2 separate regions of the Homo sapiens genome follow, and region 1 is linked to region 2. Evidence: fine-mapped expression QTL. A gene starts in region 2. The other region holds a variant in brackets. All regions are shown on one strand. Distances are from middle to middle. Region 1 holds the start of MIR339 (microRNA 339). Region 2 holds the start of CHLSN (cholesin).

The links.
Region 1: its variant is fine-mapped to the expression of CHLSN in blood mononuclear cells (TOPMed, PIP above 0.99). The same link has a PIP of 0.9 or more in lymphoblastoid cells.

Annotation. Positions count from the first base shown.
Region 1 is chr7:1,022,529-1,030,863 of GRCh38, reverse strand. All of the region lies in intron 2 of CHLSN (cholesin), which reads left to right. It overlaps MIR339 (microRNA 339), which reads left to right and starts at 7,838; the gene lies at 7,838-7,931. RefSeq lists silencers at 1-38, 99-198, 2,088-2,867, 2,898-3,107 and enhancers at 1,851-2,584, 2,585-3,319, 7,170-7,727. The variant T/C (reference allele first, on the strand shown) is at 4,754.
Region 2 is chr7:1,135,006-1,143,340 of GRCh38, reverse strand. It overlaps CHLSN (cholesin), which reads left to right and starts at 5,094. Exons shown (of 5, transcript NM_001318252.2): 1 at 5,094-6,026. RefSeq lists silencers at 4,685-4,824, 5,025-5,474, 5,485-5,534 and an enhancer at 4,865-4,964.

The sequences.
Region 1 (8,335 bases), 110 kb after region 2:
CGGGGTGTGGGCTGTGGGAAAGCAGGCATGGTGGCACCTGCCCAGAGAGAGCCCCACCTGCCCAGAGAGTCCCACCTGCCCGGGGAGAGAGAGAGAGTCCCCGCGTGCCCCGGGAGAGAGAGAGAGTCCCCCCCTGCCCCGGGAGAGAGAGAGTCCCCGCCTGCCTGGGGAGAGAGTCCCACCTGCCCAAAGCCACAAGCCTATGTGTGCCTTCATGGGTCTGGGGACAGCACAGCCCTACAGGTGGGTCACTGGGCAGGACCTAGGAAGGCATAGCAGCTGGTATGTGTCCACCTTTGCTGGGCTTGGTTCCCCCTCTGTGAAGTGCAAAGAGCAGGGTAGCTGGAAGCGTGAGATGGAGTGGAGTGAAGCCCCTGGGTCCTCAGCCGGCACCACGTCCCCATCCCTGTGGGGCTAGTGGCCCAGCCCGGGGGACTGCACCCCACTGCCAGGCCAGCTTCTCCCGCTCCTGCTCTTGTCCTTGTCTCCCAAAGCAGCCCAGAGCCACCAGCACAGAACTACGGGGAGAAGAAACCTGGTCCCCGGGCTCAGGTGTGGAGGCGGGTGGCTGTGCGAGTTGGTGCGTTGGTGAAGACGGCATATGAGCAGGATTGGCGCGTTTATGGAGGTGGGTGGATGCGTGGGTCGTTGCGTTCGGGAAGACAGGTGGATGCGCGGAGTTGGCGCGTTCATGGAGGCAGGTGACTGTGTGGGCTGGCGCATTCATGCTGGGGACACACTGGGGAGTCAGCACACAAGGCCACTGGGGCTCAGAAGGCCCAGAATTGAGTCCCTCCCATGAAACCGGTGACTGAGCACACACTTCCTTCTCTGAAAGCGGGGTGCGGACACCAGTGGCAGAGACACTAAATCGGAAGCACTGCTGCATAGCCGCTGCAGGCAGTGGGCAGGACATCCCTTCCTGGCCTCCTCGTGTCCACCAGCTCCAGGAGGCCTCCAGTCCACCCTTGCCTGCCCCGCTGCCACCACAGAGCAGGCCTCTGCATGGGAACAGGCCTGGAGATGGTGAAACAGCTAGGAGGAAAACAGCCAGCCCCAGGCCTGACTCCGGCCTTGCAGATCCTTATTCAGCGGGGGACTGGGGTGCCCACACCATCTCCCCAGGCAGGGGTGGCCTCCAGAGCAGGGCCCCGCGACCAGAGCTCAGTGTGTCCTGGACCCTGACGCCTTGAGAGGGAGTCTAAGCCTCTCCTCGCCCTGGAACCGGCCCAGCCTCCGGGCTCACTGTGCTCTGGGTGGCCAGTGCGGCTCCCTCGCACCATAAAATTGATCTGCAAGGCAGGCACCGTGGTGCATGCTTGTAATCCCAGTCAGTGCTTTAGGAGGCCAAGGCAGGAGAATCACATGAGTCCAGGAGTTCCAGCCTCCTATGCCAGGCAACATAGTGAGACCCCATCTCTCCAAAAATTAAAAATTAGGCTGGGCATGGTGGCGCACCTGTAATCCCCGTACTTTGGGAGGCCGAGGCAGGAAGATCACTTGGGCCCAGGAGTTCGTGAACAGCCTGGGCAACGTAGTGAGACCCTGTCTCTACAAAAAATTTAAAAATTAGCTGGACACAGTGGTGCACTCCTGTGGTCCCAGCTACTCGGAAGGCCAAGGTGGGAAAATCACTTGAGCCCAGGAAGTTAAGGCTGCAGTGAGCTACAATGGTGCCACTGCACTCTGGCCTGGGCGACAGAGCAAGACCCTATCTCCAAAAACAAACAAGCAAAAAAACTGATCTGCAGTCTTAGTCCCAGGGCAGGGAACTCACAAGCCAGAAGAGATCTAGACGCCCTCTGTGTGGTGAGGAAAAGGCTGCGTGACTCATCCACGTATTCAGCCAGCCGGTATTGAGCACCTCCCCTTTGCTGGACACGTGGATGCCATGGGAGGGCTAGGCCTCTGCCTGCAGGGCCTGGGCAGGGGAGATGGGGGCAGACTGGGGGAGATGGGGGGACATGGAGTCAGACTGGGGAGAGATGGGGCAGATTGGGGAGATGGCAGACTGGGAAGATGGGGGTAGACTGGAGGAGATGGGGGCCATGGAGTCAGATTGGGGGAGCGATAGGGACAGATGGCGGCAGACTAGGGGAGATGGGGACAGACTGGGGGAGATGGGTCTATGGGGGCAGATTGGGGGAGATGAGAGGATAATGGAGGCAGATGGGGGAGATGAGGGAAGTAGGGGGACGATAGGGGCTGGGTGGGGGCGGTCAGAGGCAAGTACGTGCAGCTGGCAGGGGCCCTGCGCGGGCGGGGGTGCGCCCTCCCCGCAGTTCGCGCAGGTGGACCGGAGACCCGGGCGGCCAGAGAGCCTCGTCGGAGGAGCAGTGGGGGCTGCAGCAGGGTCCACCCCCGCCTTCTCAGCGCCGAGGCCCCGCCCCGGCTCTCCCACCCCCGCGCCGAGGTCCAGTCCCCGCAGGCGCGCTGGCGTCACGGTCCAGCCGGCTGGATCTGGTTCCAGCCGCGCCGGGCCGGCCGGGCATGCGCAGTGTGGAGGCGCTGAGGCTGCTGGAGGCGCGGGCCGGGCGGTGCGCACTGCGGGCGCATCCCTGCCCCGGCGCCGTCCGTGCCCGCGGGACCTGACAGCCGGGTCAGAGGTCAGTGCGCGGGGCCAGGGCCCGCATTCGGGCTGCAGGGAGGGGATGGGAGGGGCCCTGCCCCAGCCCCGCCCCGCGGCGACAGGTGGGCGCTCCCGTGGGAGGCCGTGGCGTCCAGACGCTGCTGCGGGCCCCGCTCCGCCCTGCAGACCCCGGGCCGGCCGAGCCGCGCTTCTCGGGGCTCCGCTGCGCGCCGGTCCCCGAGCAGGCCCTGGACGGTCCCGCGCCCTCCTCCCACTTACTCTCCTGGGGGCGCAGGGCCGGGCCGCGGGTGGCAGGGTGGGGGTCCAGGCCCTGCAGGCACTGCGAGCCCTCGAGCGGCCCCGCAACCGGCCAGGCTCCCCTGCGCTGTGGGGGCGGACCGGGCCCCCAGCCGCGATGCAGCAGCCCCCGGGGGAGACACGAGCTCTGAGGACCCTGGGTGGGCTGGAGTCGTCGGCCGCCGCGTGACCCTTGAGAGGGCCTGTGTCGCCCGCAGCGCCGCCTCGCCCCTCCCTGTGCCGGGGTAGAGGACCCCGTCGGGCGCTCGGAAGCCAGGGGCTTTCTTGCCTGAGGCAAGGCGGCCCCCACTGGCGCGGTGGGTGCTAGTGCGAAGCTGTGTCAACTAAAGCAAAGACTCATGATGAAAACAATTGGGATAGCTTCACTCGGGAGCCTTCCTGAGGACGGCGGAGCAGGCCGGCAGCTCCTTCAAGAGGCTCTGCCGCTGCTGCGTCGGGGCTCAGCCGGGTTTGGGTTGGAGAGCGCAGAGGTGCTTGGAGTAGGTCTTTTATCTTCTGAGGAGGCGGTGGCCCGGGCAGGTGGCGGCCCCGTGCTGGTCCTGCGCTGTGTCCTCGGAGCGTCCTCAGCTGCTGCGCGCACAGCCGGGGGCCGTGGACCAGGCGTCCGCACGGACACGCGAACCGGGCTGCCTAGCCTGCTGCTGGGCCTCACGGCTGCAGAGACGGCGGGAATGGTGACCGTTGCTTCAGAGTCCTTTGCTTATGAGTAACTCACCGAATTGACAGTGATTTTTATGAATTCGTTGTGTTCACTGAGGAGTTGTGGCAAAGTGAGAAAACCTAACCCGTACTTAGTTCCCAGATGTGAGTGTTTTAAACTATGTGTAACAACTAACAAAATTGACATGATGATACACTTCACGGACATTTAATTTTGATCCTGCCATTTCCTCATTTTAGAGGCGGTAACATGTTCTGGTTTTTTTCTCGTTGCTCAAACATCTTCCAGGCTCCTGCACGGCGGGTGCTGTGTCTCCGGGCCCAGGTGACCTCGGGGTGAGAAGGAAGGGGCCTCTGAGATGAGAACATAGTTTTGCTGTTTTCAGTTTATACTCAAAGCCCTGCAGTTTCCTGACAGCACAGAGCACACCTGTCACGCGAGCAGGATGAAGCCCAGAGGCTGCCTGGTGAAGTGGGCGGCGCGCTGGAAAATCCACGTAGCTTTGTTCCCTCCACGGGGAGCGTGCAAGGCCCTCTCGAGCACTACGGGAGCCTCGCCTTCTGCACAGACTTCGGAGCCAGGTGCTGGAGCGGCAGCAACTGAGGGGCGTGGATGTCTTTGCATGGTTCCCATACGTTTTTTAAACGTTAATAATGTGATTTTCAGTAAAGTGGCAGGATCAGCATTGAAGAATGGGGAGCAACTGTGAGCCGATTTCCTGCGAGTGGTTGAGAAGCAGGCTTTGTGTGGTTGGCCGTCCTTGTGCTTAGCGGCTGCTCCTGCCGGAGCTGCCTGCCTGTCTTAGAAACAACGCCGCCTCCGACTGCTAGTTAGCGGTGGCTTCCACAGGTGAAGCCCAGGCAGGTTAGTGTTCTCACAGCTAGGAAGGACACGGGCCTGGCAGGGAGCTGCAGCACAGCCTCTGTCGACACAGAAGCACTGCCGTGCGAACCCTTGCCTCCCGGGACAGCTGTTGCGCGCCCAGCAGCTGGAGCGCTGGCTCTGCGAGGGCTCTTCAGCAATGCCAGGTGCAGCTGGGCTCCACCCTCAACTGGTCCAATAGTAGCGAAAGAAACGAGGAGTGTCGTGAATCGTTAGACAGCGTCCATATGCCTAAGTTCAAATTGGAGCCGCCCAGCCCTACCTGTGGATACAAAGCTGCCGTTCAGTGGGGAGCTGGAGCCGAGGGGCCTATGTGACACCCC[T/C]GCATGTGGATGAAAATCACCCAGAGGCCCTGCCAACATTCTGGGAGGTGGCAAGGGGGCAGGGCCTCTGGGATCTGGGGTCACGAGTTCCAGGAGGCCTGCTTCTGCTTCTGCCCAGCAGTTCACTCTTCCCTCCACTGCAGCTGAAGCTTGAGCTGCTGCGGGGCCCACCTGGCCGGAGGCAGAAGGGAGCCCTCCGTCCCAGGCAGCGTCCTGGTGGGTGTCTGTCCTGTGCCAGACACTGGCCACAGAGGCTGAGAAAGGAGAGGACCCCAGCCTGCCTCTGGAGGCCCAGGGGAGGCAGTGAAGGGCCCAAGGCTGGTGATGCAGGAGTTTCCAGAGCGCAGGGAAATACAGAGCAAGAAACGCCAGCCCTCAGCTCCACTGGGGAGCCACGCAACCTCTACCGGTGCTGAGGGGTTACAAAGCTCTGTTACCAGCCCCATTCCTCCTGGATGGGCGAGGTCGGTCCGTATCACACCCCCAACCTCTTGTGCTCTGCGACCTCAGAATACACGGAGCTGTGTCCACAGGCCTCAGCGGCTGTGAGCCCCTCGCCTACACTGGGGGGTCCTCAGCTGACACCTGAGCCAGTGTCCTGTGCCCCAGTGGTGCCAGGGCAGAGTCCCCCTCCCTGACCTGACTTGTGCACCTCGTCACCCACCGCCAGCAGTGTCCCCCCACAACAGGCTTGCTCAGTACAGCACCCAACCCAAGTCCCCAGCACCCACACCCCAGTGAGTTTCCTGTGCCCTATAGGCTCAGCTGCTTCTCGTCCTCCCCCCACTTGGGATCCTTGGAACAGGGAGTGGTTCTTATTTAGGTCCCTGAGGTACCAAGCACAGGCTTTGCTCTTAGCAGCCGCCACTCCAGTGATGAAGCCGTTAGCAGACTGGCCTCTGCAGAGCTCTGCGGGGAGGTGCCTGGCTTCTCCGGCCTCCACCCTGGCCCAGAGCTGCCTCCTGAGCAGCGGATCCCAACCTGCCTGCCCCTGGGGCTGGGTCTCCAGCAGTCAGGACTGAGTTGTTGCTAGCTGCTGACAGGTGTGGGGCGAAGGGGGCGCATTTGCCGCATGTCCCCATTGGCAGCATCTCCACGCCTTCCCTTGTGACACCTCCAACCAGAATAGAGCAGGTATGTGGGAGCCCGCACCTGCTCCCCCAGCGCCCCGGGGTCGTCTTCTGCCTGCTCCTTCTGTCCTCCACACTGAAGAGTGTGCTCCAGCTGGGGATGGGCATGTGTGACGCTGGGGAATGGATACCTGTGAAATGGTGGAGTGTGCATCAAGTCTAAATAGCCGCTCGCAGGATCTGGGGGCTTTTTGTTTTCAGAAACCTGATCTGATCTTTATAAAAAGTGCTCCCCCACTCAGTCAGCCTGGGTGTCCCTCCCGTCCAGGCCAGCAGCGCTGTCTGGCTCGGCAAGGAGGGGCTGAAACTGGAGAGCCCCTGGGAAGGCTCTTGTGGGCCAGGTGGCAGCGGGGAGGGTGGCTCTTGTTCCCCGCCCTCATCCTAGCGTTCAGCAGACTGCCCCACACCACAGGTTTCCATTTTCACCCTTGGGTTAAGAGAAAAGCAGAAATAAAAAGTTTCTAATGTTGCTTGCGAAATTCAGCACTGGCCACCAAAGGCACCTGGGGCTTCTGCGTCTCTCTTGTCCCCTGGGGCTCCTGCGTCTCTCCTGTCCCATGGGTCCGTTTCTTGCTGTTTATTGCAACCCGCCTACATCGTTGGTGTGTGCAGCTGAACTCAGGCTGTTTAGGAAGCCCACGGGCAGGGCTCTGTGGGGCCCATTCCTGGTCCCACGTCTCTGGCAAGGGCTCCTCTTGAGCTGAGGCTTCTGAGCTCCTGCAGGCGGGAGTAGGGAGGCAGGTCCCACTGTCAGCCAAGCTGCAGGGTTTTTAGGAAGAAAGTGGGGGCTGTGCACCGTGGGCTCACACCTATAATCCCAGCACTTTGAGGCTGGCCGGAAGGATCGCTGTGGCCCAGGAGTTTGAAAACTCATGCCTATAATCCCAGCACTTTGGGAGGCCGGCAAGGAGGATCACTTTAGCTCAGGAGTGTGAGAGCAGCCTTGGTCCTATCTCTATAAAAAATTTAAAAACTGGCCAGGCATGGTGGCACATGCCTATAGTCCTGGTTGCTTGGGAGGCTGAGGTGGGAGGATTGCTTGAGCCCAGGAGGTCGAGGCTGCAGTAAACTGTGATGGTGCCGCTGCAGTCCAGCCTGGGCCACAGAGCAAGACCGTGTATCAAAAGGAAAGGGCTGCTGTGGAAGGGCCTCCAGTCCCCTGGCCTGGGCTGCAGGGGCCGCTGCTCCAGCCCTGCCTTCTACATGTGCCGAGATGTGAGCAGTCACCCCTGGAGATCCTCACCCCTTCTCTGTAGAACGAGGAGTTGGGCTGCCAGGGATTGGGGTCTGGGCGCGTTGCTGGTGTGTGTGTGTGTGTGTGTGTGTGTGTGTGTGTGTGTGTGTGTGTGTGTGTGTTTCCTGGGAGGAGGCCCCCACAGTCTTCGTCATGTTCTCCAGGGCCCAGTGGGAAGGAGTTGGAAGTTGGATGGAGAGAAATGTGGAGTAGGGCAGGAACCTCCTTCCTAGGAAGGAGCCTGCGGGGGACCCTGCAAGGGGTCCCAGGTTCCCAGGAGGCCTCGGGTGTGCTGTCAGAGGGGCGCTGGGGCTGGGAGTCTGTCCATGTCTTCAGCCTGGGTCTCGTGAGTTCAGGGAGTTTGAACCTGGGTGGAGAATGAGCCCCTGTGCGTCTTCCCTAACCTCCAGCTGACACGAGCTTCCGCAGACCCCGCGGTGGCGGGTGTGGGCGCTCCCCGTGCCATCTGTTGGGGACACCTCACACATCACTTGCGCTCAGCCCGTGTCGCGGCTGCAGGAGCCACCAGACCTTGTAAATACTCGGATGCCCACATCTGCTCGTCTGTGTCTCCCTGTGGCTGTGCATCAGACCTCACGCGTTTAAAACGTCCTTCTGAGAAGGGGCCACAGGCAGGTGCCACCCATTGCCACGGCACCATGGCAGGAAGCGTCCCATGCTCTGCAGGGGTGGCAGGAAGCGTCCTGTGCTCCGCAGGGGCGGGGCGGCCGCTCTCCCTGTCCTCCAGGAGCTCACGTGTGCCTGCCTGTGAGCGCCTCGACGACAGAGCCGGCGCCTGCCCCAGTGTCTGCGCCGGGACCATGGAGTGGCCAGCTCGCCGCGGAGACGTCGCCGCGCTTTGTAGCAGCCCCTGGACTCGTATGCGTGGGTCTTCTGATGCAGTGTGTTTTATTCGGTATCAACATGGAAGGGGGAGAGCATGGGATGTTCCACTGGTGTCCTAGGGAGGAAGTAACTGGGGAGGGAGGACGGTTGGGGGGGATTCACCTTTAAAGAATTTGAGAGCTTGTTTATTTTGCAGAATAAGAGTAAATTAATCCCCTGTGTGTTTCTGATCATTAAGAAGACCACATCGATGCTGTTGGTTGTGGGACTGTCATTTCAGAGTCCGGATCCGAATGTGGTCCTGGCTACTCTGCGAGGGTTGCCGTGGGAGGAGGTGGTGGAGGGCACGTGGGCGTCCCGTGTTCCCTCACG
Region 2 (8,335 bases):
CTCACCTCAGCCTCCCAAGTAGCTGGGACCACAGGTGCATGCCACGATGCCCTGGTAATTTTTAATTTTTTTTGTAGAGGTGGGATCTTGCTATGTTGCCCAGGCTGGTCTCTAACTCCTGGGTTCAAGTGATCCTCCCACCTCAGCCTCCCAAAGTGCTGGGATTACAGGTGTGAGTGCCCGGCCCTGTTTTTCATTTCTTTTGTTTGAGGATGTTGTTCTTTGATTTCTACCTCACATTGTTCCGACATCGGGATGGGGAGGCTCTGCTGACATGCAGTGTTGAGGCTGCACCCACTCCTGAGCTACATTATGACATCATCTTAGAACACATTAAAAGCTAAGATTTTCTTGCAATCGATGCTGCAAGAAATGCCTTTTAAAATGGCCTTTTTTGGCCGGGCGCAGTGGCTCACTCCTGTAATCCCAGCACTTTGGGAGGCCGAGGTGGGCGGATCGCGAGGTCAGGAGTTCGAGACCAGCCTGGCCAACATGTTGAAACCCCCGTCTCGACTAAAGATACAAAAAAATTTAGCCAGGCGTGTTGGCACGTGCCTGTAATCCCAGCTACTCGGGAGGCTGAGGCAGGAGAATCGCTTGAACCTGGGAGGTGGAGGTTGCAGTGAGCTGAGATCGTGCCATTGCAGTCCAGTCTGAGCGACAGGGCGAGACTCTGTCTCCAAAAAAAAAAAAAAGCTTTTTAGAGCAGCTCTGTAATTTTTCATTCTGGATGTTTCGTTCCACACTGAAGCTATTTTTGCAGATAGTTGTGCTGTGGTGAATCTTAAGAAAAAAATGAAACAGCAGTCCACTCAGAGGACCAGCGTTTCCCTCTTCTGGTTTCACTTAAACAGTCCCTGGAGAATGAGGGCAATTAGAAAGGTTACTGTTTCTATGGCAATTGGGTAAAAAGTTGATGAGATTCTAGATAAAATCGGCTGTTCAACAAGCCGGGGTCAGCGCACACAGTGCTGAGCAGTGTGATCGTTTGCAGGGGTGATTTGGGCCAGTCGTTTGGCTGGGTGTTCGCCCATTTCCCCAGGACTTCTGTGGCACCCACGCTTTGTCCATCACTCGCAGCCTCTGATTCCCTGTTCTGCGGGAGCCAAGCCTATCTTCCATCGTGCTACACAGCTGGGTCTCTTGGCGGTAAATCTTGGAAGTTCTGTCTGAAGCAGTGATTCCTAAACTTGTTCAGGTGTCAGAAACCCAACCAGTCTTGGCCTTCCACGGCCTACCAAGAATACAGCTGAACTGAGTGCTGCACATGCAGTGTTCTGCAACACCAGATGCATCAGATACTGAATCTAGCATAAACAGACAACAAGCATCCAAGGTGTGAGATGAAGTTTGTAGGAAGAAAGATACCGTGGAGAAAATGGTATCACTTTAAGCTTTGCTGTAAACGAGAAAAGCCAACTTAATCCAATTTGAGGGCCAGAGATCCTTGGGAGATGGTTAAGAGTATTTTGCAACAGTTGGGTTGATCAGCTGTGGTTCATGGTCTTATTAAAACAGCTAGTAACGGCCAGGCACGATGGCTCACAGCTGTAATCCCAGCACTTTGGAAGGCGGAGGTGGAGAGATCACTGAAGTCAGGAGTTTGAGACCAGCCTGACTGACATGGTGAAATCCTGTCTCTACTAAAAATACAAAAATTAGCCAGGCATGGTGGTGGGCGCCTGTAGTTCCAGCTTCTCAGGAGGCCGAGGCAGGAGAATTGCTTGAGCCCATGATGTGGAGGCTGCAGTGACTCGAGATCGTACCACTGCACTCCAGCCTGGGCAACACAGCAAGACTGTCTCAAAAAAAAAAGTTTCATATCTCAGGTGTCAATGATTTAGTGTTCAATAAAGTAGGAAATGAGTGATATAACTCCTTAATATTATAAAACTTGCATACCTCCTCAAACAATAAAAGAACCTAGTTAAGATAATAGGATATAAAACCAACACACAGGATCAAAAACCTTCATTCACACAAACAATAATCAGAAGATGTAATGGAAGAGGAAAACTCCATTTACAATGGTAATAAAGATAAAACACATAGGAATAAACTTAGGACATACGTAAGACCTATATTGGATAAAACTTTAAAACATGATTCATGAAGTATTATTTTGGGAAGAAAAGAGAAAAATGTGTGTTTCATGAAAGGTACAATAGTAGATGCAAATCAATGGAAAGACAGTCCTTGTTCTTGGAAGACTCAACAACCAAGAAAGACGGGTGCCAGACATGACGTGAGAGTATGTGAGGATGACCCTAGATAGCCTGACAAGGGTATCGCCTGAGAATGTGTGAAGATGACCCCAGAGAGCCTTACAAGGCTATCTTGTAAAGGATGTTCAGATTTACCTATTCAAGGCCCATCTTGAGCTCTCCCTGCCACAGCCCTGGGATCAGCCATTTCTCCCAGGAGCCCTGGTCCGTATTCATGGGGGATGGTATTTAGGAGCAGTGTTCTGGGTGCCAGGAGTGCTCAGTGCCACTGGGATGTCATTGCATCCAAGTCCTTTCAGCATTTCTGTATTAGTCAGTATTCACACTGCTATTCAGACATACCTGAGACTGGTAATTTATAAATAAAAAGAAGTTGAATGGACTCACAGTTCCACATGGCTGGGGAGGCCTCTCAGTCTTGGCGGAAGGCAAAAGGCACATCTTACATGGCAACAGATGAGAGAAAATGAGAACCAAGCAAAAGGGGTTTCCCCTTATCAAACCATCAGATCTCATGAGACTTACTCACTACCAAGAGAACAGTATGGGGGAAACTGCCCCCATGATTCAATTATGTCCCACCAGGTCCCTCCCACAATGCATGGGAATTATGGGAGATACAATTCAAGATGAGATTTGGGTGGGGACACAGCCAAACCATATCAATTTCCAAAAATAAAAATGAAAAAAAATTATTTTCCTTTTTTCCTTTTTTTTTTTCACCCAGGCTGGAGTGCAGTGGTGTGATCATAGTTCACTGCAGCCTCCATCTTCCAGGCTCAAGCAATCCTTCCACCTCAGCCTCCTAAGTAGCTGGGACTATATGCGTGCACCACCACACCCAGCTAATTTTCTATTTTTATTTTTGTAGACATGAGGTCTTACTGTTTGCCCAGGCTGGTCTTGAACTCCTGGTGTCCATCCATCCTCCTGACTCAGCCTCCCAAAGAGCTGGGATTACAGGCCTGAGTCACTGCACCTGGCCATGATTCACTTTTTTTTTTTTTTTTTTTTTGAGCTGGAGTCTTGCTCTGTCGCCCAGGCTGGAGTGCAGTGGCGCGGTCTCAGCTCATTGCAACCTCTGCCTCCCGGGTTCAATAGGTTCTGATGCCTCAGCCTCCTGAGTAGCTGGGATTATAGGTACATGCCACCATGCCTGGCTAATTTTTGTATTTTTAGTAGAGATGGAGTTTTGCCACGTTGGCCAGGCTGGTGTTGAACTCCTGACTTCAAGTGATCCATCCACCTCAGCCTCCCAAAGTGCTGGGATTACAGGTGTGAGCCACCGCACCCGGCCGACTTCTAATGAACAGAATATGGCAAAAGCCTAGGGAAGTCACTTCTGAGATTAGGGTGCAAGGAGACTGTGATGTGCGTCTTGTGTGTGCCTCCTCTTGTGTGTGCTTGCACCGTCTAAGGCAAGCCAGCTGCAGTGTTGTGAGCTTCCTTGTGGTAAGGCCCATGTACCAAGGAACTGAGGGTGGCCTTTGGGCAGCAGCCAGCAAGGCTGAGGCCCTTCTCTAATGACCTTGGAGGACTGAGTCCTTACAATATCCGTGTGTGTGAGCTTGGGAGTGGATCATTCCAGATAAGCTTTCCGATGAAACCACAACCCTGGGGGGACACCTTGACCACAACTTGGTGAACCCTTGAGGCAAAGGCACAGAGCTTAGCCACGCCCACTTTCCTGACCGCGGATACCATGAAAAAATAAATGTTCTTTTAGGCTGCTAAATGTTGGGTTAATTTGTTATGCAGAAAAAGGAACCAAATACAATCTTCTACCAGTAAGGAAGAGTGCACCTTCTTTGCTTGTCACCTTTGGATTCCTGAGGCAACGTACATCATACTTGATACGGCTGCCAAGCACTTAACTTACTGGGTGACTTGAAAGCATGCTTTTTTTTCTTTTTTTTTTTTAGACGGGGTCTGGCTCTGTTGCCCAGGCTGGAGTGCAGTGCCTTGATCATAGCTCACTGCAGCCTCCATCTCCCAGGCTCCAGCGATCCTCCCACCTCAGCGTCCAGAGTATCAGGAACTACAGGCACGTGCCACCATACCCGGCTAATTTTTATTTTTTTAATTTATTTTTTATTTTTTAAAACAGAGTCTCATTCTGTCGCCCAGGCTGGAGTGCAGTGGCACGATCTCGGCTCACTGCAACCTCCACCTCCCGGGCTTAAACGATTTTCCTGCCTCAGCCTCCCGAGTAGCTGGGATTACAGGCACCTGCCACCACGCCTGGCTAATTTTTGTATTTTTAGCAGAGACGGGGTTACGGGGTTTCGTCATGTTGGCCAGGCGGGTCTCGAACTCCTGAGCTCAAGCGATCCGCCCGCCTGGGCCTCCCAAAATGCTGGGATCACAGGCGTGAGTCACCGCTCCCGGACACAAGCATTATTATAACACTACCCACCCTGTGTATTTTTTAGCACCTATCCTGATTTTTTAAATTCAGCACGAAGTTTAAGTCCTAGCCCTGTTGATCCCAATAGCCGTAGCTCATCCATTTCGACTCCGAGCCGAGCTCCATACCCTGGACCCTCGGCGGAGGCCCCACCCCGGGACGCCAGCCCGGCCGGGGCAGCTTGCACCCCAGACCCCCAAGCCCTGCGGGGCCCAAACCTAGTCATCTGCACTTGTTCTGGGCAGGGCGGGTTGCCTTGGCAACCAGCTCCTCTCCAAGCAACTCTAGGCCTCTAGAGATGGCGTCAGTAGCCCGCGCCCGGTCCTGGAACCGCCCCCCGTGCTGCCGCCGCTTGCCATTAGCCGGCGGAGAGACGGACGCAGACCTCGTCCAATGGGAGGCTCCGCACTCCTGAAGGCGGGACTAACGCTTACCTGGGGCGCGGGTCCCTGCCGGAAGGCGGCGTCCGCGACGCAGCTGTTCACGCTTAGGTGGGCGACGTGGGCGCAGGTGGGCGCAGGTAGGCGCGTGGGGCGGCGGCGGGGTGGCCGGCGGGTCAGGGCGCCAGGAGACCCAGAGCCCCGGGGCGGGCTCCCGCGGGGCTCCGCCCCCTCCACGTGGGTGCGCGGAGGCCCGGCGCGGCGCGACCGGGCGGCGGCCCTGGGGTCCGCGGTGCTGGGGAGGCTGGTGCGGCCGGTGCGGCCGGTGCGTCCCGGCGCGGGCTCCGACACCCGCACCCGCCTCTGGGTTAACTCAGCGCGGGCGAGTGGAAGGGACTCAGCTGGCTCCTAGGTTTCAGGCCGTCAGGGCTTGCAGTGGCTCTGGTTTCATTGTCTTTCTCTGAAGACGCCCTGATTGCCCTCCGAGGCTTTCAGCTCCCACTTTCTCTTTTTCAATTTTTGAGGCAGTGTCTCGCTGTGCCACCCAGGCTGGAGTGCAATGGCGTGATCATAGCTCACTGCAGCCTCCACCTCCTGGGCTCAAGCCGTCCTCCCGCCTCATCCTCCCAAGTAGCTGGGACCACATGCGCGCGCCACCACACCCGGATAATTTTTAAAAATGTTTTTTGTAGAAATGGGGTCTCACCATGTTACCCAGGCTGGTCTCGAATTCTTGGGCTCAAGCGATGGATCCTCCTGCCTCGGCCTCCCAAAGTGCTGGGATTACAGGAGTGAGCCAACGCGCTTGGCCTCACTTTCCATCATAAGCATGCTTTCCGTTTCCTTCCTTCCGTCATTCATTCATTCATTTTTAAAAAACGTTCATTGGGTTCCTCCTGCACTGTTCGGGGCATTGGGCTACAGCTGTCAACAAGTGGAGACAAGTCTGTGATCTAGTGAACTTCCATTCTGGAGGGGAGAGACAGATGAACAAGGTGCACAGAGCAGGTGATGGTAAGTGCCATGGAGAAGATGAGAACAGGGGTTTTGAGAATGGAAAGGAAGCAGGAGGAGGAGTGAGGCACCAGAACATTCCAGGTCGAGGAAACAGCAGGTGCAGGGGAAACAGCAGGGAGCCCAGTGTGGCTGCAGCCAATTTGGGAACAGAGAGAGAAAGAGGAGGTGAGTTCCCAGAGATGCGAGGAGGGGCCAGGGCAGTCGTGTGGACCTTACCAAGTGGCAAGGACCTTGACTTTCCCTCCAAGTGGAAGGGGACAGCTTGGGAAGTTTTTTGAGTGGAGGTGACACACCATCTGATTTAGGAGTTTAAAAGCCATCGTGAGAGGTGGTGGCTTGGACTGGGTACCTATGGGATCTTAAGGGAGTCACATTCTGGGTGTATTTCAGTGGTAAACCAACAGGAGTTTGTGGTGGGTTGGACGAGTATGTGAGAAAGAGAGGATTTATGGATGGACCAAGGTTTTAAGCTTGAGCTACTATGTGAACCTCATCAGATGGATGTTTATGGAGAGGATGAACACTAGGAAGCTCAGGTTTGTGGAGGGTGATCAGGGGTATTGATTACGAATTCTTAAGCTTGAGATGATATATGTGTAGATGATATATATAAGTACATATATATGGTTATATATATAGTTATATATATACACAGTTTATACACACATCCGCATATATATATTTATTTTTATATATTTATATATATTTATATATGTTTATATATGTTTATATATGTTTATGTTTATATGTTTATATATGTTTATATATGTTCATATATATGTTTATATATATTTATATATGTTTATATATATTTATATGTTTATATATGTTTATATATTTATATATGTTTATATATGTTTATATATATTTATATATATGTTTATATATATTTATATATATGTTTATATATATTTATATATATGTTTATATATTTATATATATTTATATATATGTTTATATATATTTATATGTTTATATATTTATATATTTATGTTTATATATATTTATATATGTTTATATATATTTATATATATTTTATATATTTATATATGTTTATATATATTTATATATATTTTATATATTTATATATGTTTATATATATTTATATATTTGTGTATATATTTATAATTATGTATATTTATACATATTTATGTATATATATTTATATATTTATGTATATATTTATATATATTTATGTATATATATTTATATACACATTTATATAAATTTATATATACTTATATTTATATATATTTATATATACTTATATATTTATACATATATTTATATATACATATATATTTTATATATATATTTATATATGCTTATATATTTATATATACTTATATATATTTATATATATTTATATATACTTATATATTTATATATACTTATATATATTTTTATATATACTTATATATTTATATATTCATATATATTTTTATATATTTATATAAATACATATTTATGTAAATATATTTATATATTTATTTTATATAAATAAATAAATAAATTGTGTATATATATATATATATATATTTCTTTTTGAGGTGGAGTCTCACTCTGTTGTCCAGGCTGGAGTGCAGTGGCGCGATCTCGGCTCACTGCAACCTCCACCTCGTATTCAAACGATTCTCCTGCCTCAGCCTCCCGAGTAGCTGGGTTTACAGGCAGGTGCCAGCACACCCAGCTAATTTTTGTGTTTTCAGTAAAGATGGGGTTTCACCATGTTAGCCAGGCTGGTCTCAAACTCCTGACCTCAAGTGATCTCCCCGCCTCGGCCTCCCAAAGTGCTGGGATTACAGGCGTGAGCCACCGTGCCCGGCCATACACATACATATATATACACACATGTAGATATATGTGTATAAACAGTGTAAACAGAGGTCAGGAGTTCAAGTATATATATGTGTATATATGTCTAGGTACACATATATGACCATGTATATATATATAACTATATGTATATACATACAACTATAGCTATATATATACACAGTTGAGTTGGCGTGTAGTTGAAGGAGAGGGTTAATAAGAGACTGTAAAGAGAGGAAACAAAGTCATCAGCGTCTAGTTGGTATTTGAAGCCACATGACTGAATGGGATCACGAGGGAGTGAGGAGGCTGAGCACTAAGCCTGGGTCCTTCAGTGTTCAAGGACACGGCGATTAAGAGGTGGGAGCAAAAGCAGAAGTTCTGCTGTCTGTGCTGGATGCCAAGTGAAAAATGCCTGTCAAGAGAGAAGGAAGGATCAACAGTCCAACGCTGTTAGGTCAAATAAGTTGCATACTGAGAGTTGGCAATGG